Linked DNA regions of Homo sapiens: all the other regions are reported to be linked to region 3. Evidence: microRNA targets listed by miRTarBase, many of them from high-throughput screens and not tested one by one. Region 3 holds a microRNA gene; each other region holds the end of a gene's coding sequence.
Evidence for each region. The annotated mature microRNA hsa-miR-19b-3p reads UGUGCAAAUCCAUGCAAAACUGA and lies in region 3 at 1,104-1,126, opposite strand. An mRNA with a match to its seed (bases 2 to 7 or 8) in the 3' UTR can be bound and repressed. Matches are read on the target gene's strand: a 7mer-m8 pairs with bases 2 to 8, a 7mer-A1 pairs with bases 2 to 7 and ends in A, and an 8mer does both.

Region 1 (3,240 bases), not on the chromosome of region 3:
CCCAAAGCGCAGTTAAGTGTCTGGTCCAGACTAGCTATTAGCGATTAAGTAGTTTCTTTTCACTGTCAAGGCTTTTCCCTGAGGTAATGCCTAAATTCCTAATTTTAATATTTGATCTTATTTCTCTTAGCTCCATCCTCTCTCACCAATAAGCTCTCCACATTTCCACCATGCTAAATGCTTTCTCAACTCTGGAATTTACACTGTTCAAATCTTCCCTTTGTTCAACAGTTATAAAATTTTAGACAAATTTATACATTCCCACATTGTTCCTCTCAAAATTTACTCATTTATATAGTGCAATCAATATATTGTTTACATTTTATATAGGTTAGTTTCTGAATACTGTATGTTCTTCCAAATGTATCCTTACAAAGACACAGAGGAAGGGGGTAACCTTTCTGAATTCCAATTCCTTAATGTTTTAAAAAAAATTATTACTCTTTTCTTTTCCCTTAAACAATTCCCTTCTCAAGTCTTTATGTATCTACTTTCCAAACTTCTTTTCACTGTAGCAAATACCAAAGGAAAAATAAAAATCATTTCAGAGTCAATGAATCTCCTCCCTGCTCTCATTTATTAGATCAACTACTTCAAGGCTACATATGTGGCAGTACTTTTTAAGTGTTAACAGCTGTTAATACCTTGAAGTTGAAAAAATAAAAAAGCCAGAGAAAACATATCACAAGCAATCAGTTTGAATTATATGAAAAGGTACTTAGATCTTGACTTTCATATAAATACTAATTTTAACACTATAAAAGACAACATAACTATATATCATTTTTCTTTATAAAACTACCCCTTAACAGAATATTTGTAAGCTAGTCATCCCTTAGGTTTTTCTGTACTGATAAAAAGTTATTTTTAAAAGAAAAATATTTAAAATAATTGTTTCACAGAAACAGAAAATCTTATCAAATTCTGATAAAAAACTATAATCATGGGTACTCTTACCACACTATTTTCTTTCACCAAAGATGGATATTTAGGAAGTGGTATATTGGTTAATAAGATAAGCTTCTCAGTGATCTACAAAAGCGCCACAATAAAGATGAGGTAGTATGAGACTTTTCTAACCTTGTAAAAGGTAAATATCGTCTTTAGAAGAGATATTTATCCTGACATTGGTGTTATGATATCCGATATCCTGAGCCTCATCACTGCTAAGAGGTGCCATTTTTGTAGCTACATCTCATTGAGACTAAGACAATCTTGAGATCACTGAGGAAAAAAAAAATGCTAAAAGATAACGGTAATAGAGATTTTCCTTAATTTTGTAATAATTACTAAAAAATTATTTTAAAGCTATTATGGAAAAATGCCATTTTCATGTTAACAGAACTGCAAGATAGGGAAATGCTACTCACATAAAAGCAACAATAATGAAGAAATATTTGTTCTAACTTGGAAGTTTATGAGTCAAATTTCTTTCAATCTAGGTAGAAGCAGTTTCCTAATATAGCTAAACTAGCATCAAGAAATCAGTTACGATATTAAAAATGTCAATGTGTACAAAGGGTTAGACAGCTCACCAGAAGAAAATTGTCTATCTACATTTATTATTCATTGATTCCTTAAAAAAAGAAGATAGGATACCACTCCATTTATTTTTACTAGTTACTTTGGGCTAAAGATGTTTCTAAAAACGTTGCCCTGTTTCTGGGATAGTAAATTTAAAATATCACCCCTTTTGTCCAGTACTGTTCTGTATGGTGTAAGTCATGTAGCTGTCAAAAGGCTTTCTTTTTTTGAAGCCACATTACAGACTAAGTTAATTCTGAAGATAGGGATAATTATTTGGATCTTGTAGATCAAAAACAGTATTAAGCTTCCTGAATACTGAGCTCCATGTTTATTTCTGGAATCTTTATTCAAATTCAACTTAAAATAATGAAAAACTACTTAGGTACTCTTTGGTTACCAGTGGAAATTTGTGGCTGCTAATACATTGTGGAATTTCCCCAAAGTAACAGCTCAGAGTTTCTATAAAAGGGCTAAGTAGAAGCAACAGTTCATAAGCTAATACAGAAAAACCCCACAATTACTTTAGCACTTTAGTAACTACTAGCTACTAATAGTGTTATCATTATTTTCAAAGCTTCCAATGAGAAAGGAACAAGATTTATGTTTTGAAGATGGTTTAGCTCTTGCAGGTTGAGAGAAAGACCTATTCAGGAATGACAAATGATCCGGCCACATTGTAGAAGAGTAAGTGCACCTCCAGAATGATATGTTTCCATTTGATTCTCATTGACCAGATTAATCAAATTTAGTAATCCTGCTTTAGAGTTAATATTTAAAATAAAAATACACCAAGTTTGACTTGGTTTTGTTACTTTTAACATCCCTATTAGTAAGTTACAAAAGTCAATAACATTAGTATGAATGGTGAATTACAACATTCAGCTTTACTGAAGAATATCAAACTCAATGAAAAGGGGGACGGGGAACTATATTTTATATATAATACTACTAATGGCATAGATTAACAAAATATTTTACATGTAGGAAAGGACATAAGATTACTTTTAAAGAATAGTATGAAATACACAATATTCAAATGTGTTTGCAATGCCTACCAAATTTCAAATGTGCCTGGATCATGTATAAATTAAGGAAAAAGGATCATGTATAAATTAAGGAAAGAAAAAATGTAAGTATACAACCTACACGGTAAAAACAAAAACCAAACACCTGGTTAAAAATATCTATTTAAGCTCGAGTGTATAACCTTAAACAATTTGTGTATCACTAGAAAAATGGATTTATTAGTAAAATTTAGGGCAGAGATTTTATTTTGGACACCACTGCCTTTGTAGAAAAATCCAAAGTGGCATAAAAAGAAAAATAAAATATTAAAAGAAAAAATATATATTATCATTCCCATGTTCCCATCCTGTTACTAGCATTGCTGTTCTGGTGCATCAATCCTGAGTACTCTAACTTTTGATTTATAATGATATTCCTTCAGATATAATTTCATAGAAGAAGGAATTGGAAGGGCATCGATGCCATCATAAGTTGTACAGTTACAAATAACTGTTCTGCATATATGCTGCAGGGAAAAAGGGAAAGTCCGAATTAAGGGAGTGGATAGAAGTGGTTCAAAGAACATACAGGCGCTTGGGTCCTTATAATGTTCTAGGAGCCCAGTAATGTCAGGAGAATGGAAGACACAGGGGTCATGTGCATCAAAGCTAAAGTTGTGATTCCACTGTTCAATTCTAGCATGAAGAG
Region 2 (3,264 bases), not on the chromosome of region 3:
AGAAGCCCCGCTGCTCCAGCACACCCTGCTCCCCGATGCGGAGGACCGTGTCAGGCTACCAGATCCTACACATGGACTCTAACTATTTGGTTGGCTTCACGACTGGCGAGGAACTCCTGAAGTTAGCTCAGAAGTGCACAGGAGGTGAAGAGAGCAAAGCAGAAGCCATGCCATCCTTACGCTCCAAACAGCTAGATGCAGGACTTGCCCGTTCCTCTCGTTTGTATAAAACCAGAAGTAGGTACTACCAGCCATACGAGATTCCAGCTGTCAATGGCAGGAGGCGAAGGCGGATGCCAAGCTCAGGAGACAAGTGCACTAAATCTTTACCTTATGAACCTTACAAGGCCCTCCATGGGCCTCTGCCTCTTTGTCTTCTTAAAGGTAAGAGGGCTCACTCCAAATCTCTGGACTACCTCAATCTAGATAAAATGATCAAGGAGCCAGCTGATACAGAAGTGCTACAGTACCAGCTTCAACACCTAACCCTCCGAGGGGACCGTGTGTTTGCTAGGAATAATACATGAATGACTTGGAGAGAGCTTAAACCAATTTAGGTCAGCCTACGCTTGGCTAGAAAAAACCCACTGCTGTACTCTGTACATGACTCTTCACACTATAGATGGTTATATCAGCTAAGTGTTCCTGGAACATAAAAATTGTTTGGGTCAAATTTGAATACAGGAATGAAATCACAGGTACTTGGGGGGGGGATATCATTCTAGAGCACGCAACTGCAAAGAAAACAGAATGTTGACTGTTAGTTTGTATAGCTTTTTAGCTAGGAAAAAAAGGCTTTGGTACAGTAATTTCATCTTTATGATTCTGACACTCAAATTGGGAATGTTACCTGCTTGGTTGTTGCTGACTTGATATGATTCATTAGAAATTTATATCTTCAGTACTCAAGTACTTCTTGAATCTCTGTATTTTACTATAAAATGTATGTAATGATTTGTTTTATGAAATTTAGAACTTGAACATTGCTGAATTGGACCACTTTTTATTTTTAAATATTGAGTTTAAATATTTTATAACTGGTTTTGCACTGAAAAAATTAACATTTCAGATTGACAAGAGAGTAATCTTTCTTCACTTGCCTCAATAATGTTATTGAGCAATGAATTTTTTATTTCCGCATGGAAAGTTATTGATCTCTATGGCTGTAAAATATTTCTTTATAGCGTTATTAAAGTGTGTCTTAATAAAATTAAATTTGGGATACAAAGTATTTATTTTACAATGGGTGGGCGGGGGAAACTTTTCCAGAAAGTTTCCAATATGACGTTTTCATAAGTTGAAAAAACTCTCCTTAGTGCTTATTTTCTAACTTAAAATTCACCTGGAACTTTAAATGGGAAAGGATTCTTTTAATTGTGGATTATAGGCATAATACTGTTTGCATCTGAATTTTCTGTAAGTGAATAATAGTTTAATAGAGGAACTCATGATTTGTACTATTGAATGATTAAACTAAGTATGAAGTGATACCATTCAGCATGGCATCAGGTCATTGCAGTTTTAGTTCTGTGTAACACAAGCACTCACTGAAATTCCAGTTTCTAGGATTAGTGTAGGAGCCTAACGTGCTTCTACTGTTTTAATGGGTTAATCCTGGATTACTTAACAATTTATGTCAATTGCACTGGTTTAATTTGTTGCTAAAGAAATAATGCCCTGGGTTTAGTAACAAATACAGCTCAACTATTCTTGAATATATTTTGAAAAAAAAATGTATGTAACTTACCTTTTGTAAACGTTCCATTTCTTTTTTCCCTCATTTTTGACTCTTAAAGGTGCAATTTATTACTGAATTGGGATTTCTGGCAGCACAGAACTGCTTTTTATTTTGGGGTCTGTGAGTTTCTTAGGTATTAGCAATCTTGCTTATAAAATAAGAACACCTTTTAATTAATGAGTGGGTCATTCCTGGTGCAATTGTGATTTTTCTTTAGCCAGAATGAATGGCAAACTCTATTTAGAGCAAAGTAAGTATTAGAAAACCCTAGGAACTCTTAATCAACGTTTATTACACTTTCATTAAGGCAAACTACGTGAAAGAGCCTTGGGGAAGTTGGCCCATATCTTACTAAGTTGATCAGATTTCTCGTTGGGCTGGAAATGTTTCGCTGTTGTATATTTTAAAGTAAATTGCACCTTTGTAACATATTGTATTGACGAATGATCACTAAGATTAGCTATATCTATACAGTCATTAGTTTGACAAGAAATAGAATCCTGTCAGATGCCAAAGAGTGGGATTTTTATGTTTAATGATTAAACACCATTATTTATTGACAATTTACCCTGTGGAACTGTATTATTTCTAACTATGAAATAAAGGGGTGATGTAAACACACATTGTTGTGTGGTGCTTTAAACTAGGTCCACTATCAACAGGCTACTTACTGTTCAAGAATTCCACTGAAGCACTTATTTTAAGGCCCTATTTTTCTTAAACAAAACAGTGACAACAACAATCAAACCATTTACTTTTGATGCTCATTGGCATTTTATGATAAAAGATGTATTCATGGCAATGATATGTATTCACCCTATTAGGAAACACAACTGGTTACCTATGAGACCTGTTCTGTCCGTGTGCCTACGTTCCTTAATAATAGCTAAATAAAAATTTGTAGCTTTTTTTGTTTTGTTTTGTTTTTTCCTGAAAGACAGGTGAAACTCTGTGGCAAAAATAGGGGGGTTAATAGTATAAGATATGGCATACTTACTCTTTTTTGATTAGTAAAGATATATAATTTTAAATTTGGTTTTCTAGAAAGAAAGTTTCAAAACTCTAGGCCAGTAATTTTCACAATGTGTTTGCAGAACCCCTTTATTAGTTCAGTCTTACTTTCTCTGCACCCCATGGAATTGTAGCCTATGGTAGGTAAGAACCAATTTTTTTAAAAAAAGGGTAGGCTGGATCTCTTTTAGTTGAAAAACAATCCCTTTTGACATGGTTTCTATTTTTTAACTTTTTCATTTTTTATTCAATTTAATATTCCACACTAAATGGGGCACACTTGGCCAGAATATACCTGATGATATTATCTTACTGTTCTTGCCCTTAAACATTGCAGCACTATATAACTTTAATTTTTTTCTTCTTTTGCAAAAGTACCGTTTGTTTGAAGCTCAGATGATGCATAAAGTTGCAGTAAAATTTCATTCCTTGCCTCAATCTGAGGTGAGCTTCTTTTGCTCTTCTGACTTCCATTTGGTTGCATTTTACACCTCTGGGTGCAGGGCTCCCATAGT
Region 3 (3,264 bases):
GTCTTAGTAAGTGCTAAAGTTTTAAGAACCACTAGAGGATCCAAATAACTTTTGGTGTTCAGTCTCAAACCACTAATTAGCTGCGCATGAGAAATTTCTGCTTTAGGTTAGTCACCCTATGGAGCCCCCGAACCCTAAATATTAACAGTAGGCCCACATCCAGGTTTCCATCTGCTAGACTCCAAAGCAAGGCAGCAGCCATCCCTCTCAGTAGCCCTGCCACCAAATCCTCTTCTCCGAGAACCCCAAAACAGAGTTTGATTGACAAGTTCATTCTTCTCTCCTGTCAGACCTCAAAATGTGCCCAGTTCCTTAAAGGTATGTGTCCCATTGGTTTACAACTCTTCATTCCCTTCCTAAGAATGAGCACGTGTACTAAAACAAAATTAGTACATGTCATCCAAATATTGTCAGGGTAATAAAATTCCTAAAATTAGGCATCTTGGTGCTTTATGTAGATGCAAACTTGAAAAGCAGCTATGTCCAAGTTTTCCTTTAGGATCCTCCCAAGAGATATTTTACAAACTCCTCTAGCATTGCTAATTATTTTTTTTAAAAAAAAAAGAGTCATTTTTTCAGATCTATAAATTTCATTTATTTTGAGGTTCATTCACATTCAGTAACAATCTGATCATTCACCAAAGTTCCAAAACACATACTTTATAAATTAGCTATCATAGTTTTTAGAAATCCAAATATATTTCAAATTATTTTTTAATAGCAGCAACTAGAGAAAGGATTTTTTACCATCTAGCTTACTGTAGCGCTGATCAGGAATGTCGCCAACAAAGGTCCTGCGGTTTACAGATGGATACCGTGCAATTTTTCTCCTATGATACTCATCAAAATTGCATCGTGATCCACCCGACAACAGCAAAACAGATCATTTTACAATGACTAAATATCAGAACTTACGGCTTTTAAAAGTTAAAATAAGAAGACGATAAAAATCCTCCTTTCTTCCACAGGCCGGGACAAGTGCAATACTTTATATAGAACACAAGTAATGCAACAAATCCCCACCCAGGGATGAATGGGCATGAGTGCTGGAGATACGCATGAAGGTGTGTTCACACAGACGTAGGAAGCACACATTATCACAATCAGTTTTGCATGGATTTGCACAGCCACATATACATATATACGCTGAAATGCAAACCTGCAAAACTAATTGTAAGTAGCAATGTCTTTGAATATTCTCTCCATCAACAAGAGATTTGTTATCCAAGAGTACTGGAAGTGCCCATACTACAGTAGAGTCATGCCAAAACTACCTGCACTATGAGCACTTTGGTACTACTAGGACCCAATCTTATCCTCTGTACACAACTGTACACTGCACAGTCCCCACCATCTGTTCCCAACAAACAATAAAAAGGCAAAAAACAAACCACTGAAATGTGTCCTATTCAAATTACTACTCAAGGCATACTTTTAAAATGCTGTATATTAGGCAGCCTGTGCCAGAAGGGGCATTTAGGGCAGTAGATTCTAAGCTGCTTCACTAACTGCACTAGATGCACCTTAACACAAGAGACACATTATAAGAAGCAGCTCAAAAGCATCAACTACTTAATTATGCACAAACTACAGTTCTCAGTAGCCATTGACTAAATCACCATGGTAATGTAAGAAGTGCTTACATTGCAGTAGATCTCAAAAAGCTACCTGCACTGTAAGCACTTTTACATGGCCAAGGCCTATTCCTGTAGCAAAATTTTAAGTCTTCCAGGAGCTCTTCTTTTCCGTCCTCACAGATCCATGCAGACTCACCTGGTTAAAACAACAAAACAAACACACACATATTAGAAACTAAACAAGTAAACTACTAGTTAATATTCCTGAAACAGGCTTTCCTTTGGCTTACAGAGTCTAAGCTAGGTTTTGTGGTTTCAACCAAATCCTGAGAAATATTAATAATCTCAATTATTTACACAGAATTGAACACGAATAACACTGGCAACTGCAAAAAGTCCAATTCTTATGTATAAGCAGATTTTGGACTCCCCCTCTCCATCTAAGAAAATTTGATATCTGCATCTCAGTAATTTGCAGGCACATTCTATCCACCCTGATTTTATAAGAGGAGGACCTAGAGAAAGGAGCATGTAAAACCCAGGATGAGTATTCGAGTCTTCAGATCATTCAGAGCTTTTGGGCTCCATACGGAAAGTGACTGTTAGATTAAATGAATATTCCCAGCCCCCACCCCATTAATAGAAAATGAGAGAAATTTTAGAGCTGGTTTAAGAAACACAGCCTTACAGTCTTCACATAATGCACAGATGGCTGAGAGATGTCACATTTTGATCTATTTCAAAGGGCTCTACTTCTGTTTAAACATTTATGGACCCATTTTCTCCATTAAACCAAAGTAGGCAGATTAGCTCTTCTTCCCTTCATGTCATTATCTTCCATAAGAAAACCTTCTCCCATTTCCAAGTGCTTATTTTACCTAAGAACATACAGCAAGGAAGTGAGCCTCTATGTGAAAAAGGCTCACAGGGTCCCCTATCTCTTCCATGATGGGGTAACTTTTGTTTAAAAGAAAAACAAAAACGTTTGGGACAGAATCTGTAATACGTTAAACGAGTGAGGGAATTTTAAATGTTGAACTTTCGTCACGATATCTTATGCCACTAAATGAGTCTTTAGAAGTCTTTACAAACTAAACTGATTTATAAAACTTATACATCAATCTGGAATCAATTTTCTATTAGGGAAGAATGGATTTAGTATAGAAATGAGAAAAATAACATTTTTCCCCTTAAATTGGGTTTCTACACCTGTGAAGATTTCTTTTCCATTAAAAAAAAAATACTCCAAACTTGACTCAAAATGCATAGTATTTGCCAACCCAACCTGGCCAAACTGAGCCCCACAGCCATCAGACAGGGCGCCCTTCTAGTTACTACCTTTTGCTAATTAGCGGTTCATCTGGCATCCCTCGCGCACGCTGGGCAGTCACTCTCCAATCCCCTTAAATTGCAAATAATAATAATAATAATAAGGAAAAGAAAGAAAGAAGTCCTTCCCTGTACGCCTTTGTGGCTCCCTTTTGCCTCTTCCCGCGTCTCTCACACCCTTACCTAATGCTCCCGTTGAAGTCCGCGAGCAGCCCGCGCGTCCAGGGTGTGCTCCAGCTGCTCACACCACGCGCTCCAGTCCTCGTGCAGCCTCAGCCGCCGCCGAAATTAAAGAGAAAGAAACAAAGCATCATGGGAAACGGAGTTCTCCATTCAAAGCACCAAAAACGCGCCAAGC

Region 1: miRTarBase lists SOCS4 as a target of hsa-miR-19b-3p. The part of its 3' UTR that is shown has no 7-base or 8-base seed match.
Region 2: miRTarBase lists MACIR as a target of hsa-miR-19b-3p. Seed matches in the 3' UTR shown: 7mer-m8 at 1,043-1,049.

The regions. Positions count from the first base shown.
Region 1 is chr14:55,044,030-55,047,269 of GRCh38, reverse strand. SOCS4 (suppressor of cytokine signaling 4) reads right to left here. Exons shown (of 3, transcript NM_199421.2): 3 at 1-3,240. The coding sequence ends at 2,906. Among named protein-coding and RNA genes, the nearest start is that of MAPK1IP1L, 6.0 kb to the left of the region's middle.
Region 2 is chr5:103,276,014-103,279,277 of GRCh38, forward strand. MACIR (macrophage immunometabolism regulator) reads left to right here. Exons shown (of 3, transcript NM_033211.4): 3 at 1-2,647. The coding sequence ends at 527. Among named protein-coding and RNA genes, the nearest start is that of MACIR, 19 kb to the left of the region's middle.
Region 3 is chrX:134,168,580-134,171,843 of GRCh38, forward strand. It overlaps MIR19B2 (microRNA 19b-2), which reads right to left and starts at 1,187; the gene lies at 1,092-1,187. It overlaps MIR106AHG (miR-106a-363 cluster host gene), which reads right to left. Exons shown (of 2, transcript XR_007068340.1): 1 at 3,090-3,264; 2 at 571-1,773. MIR363 (microRNA 363) reads right to left here and starts at 873; the gene lies at 799-873. It overlaps MIR92A2 (microRNA 92a-2), which reads right to left and starts at 1,033; the gene lies at 959-1,033. It also overlaps MIR20B, MIR18B and MIR106A.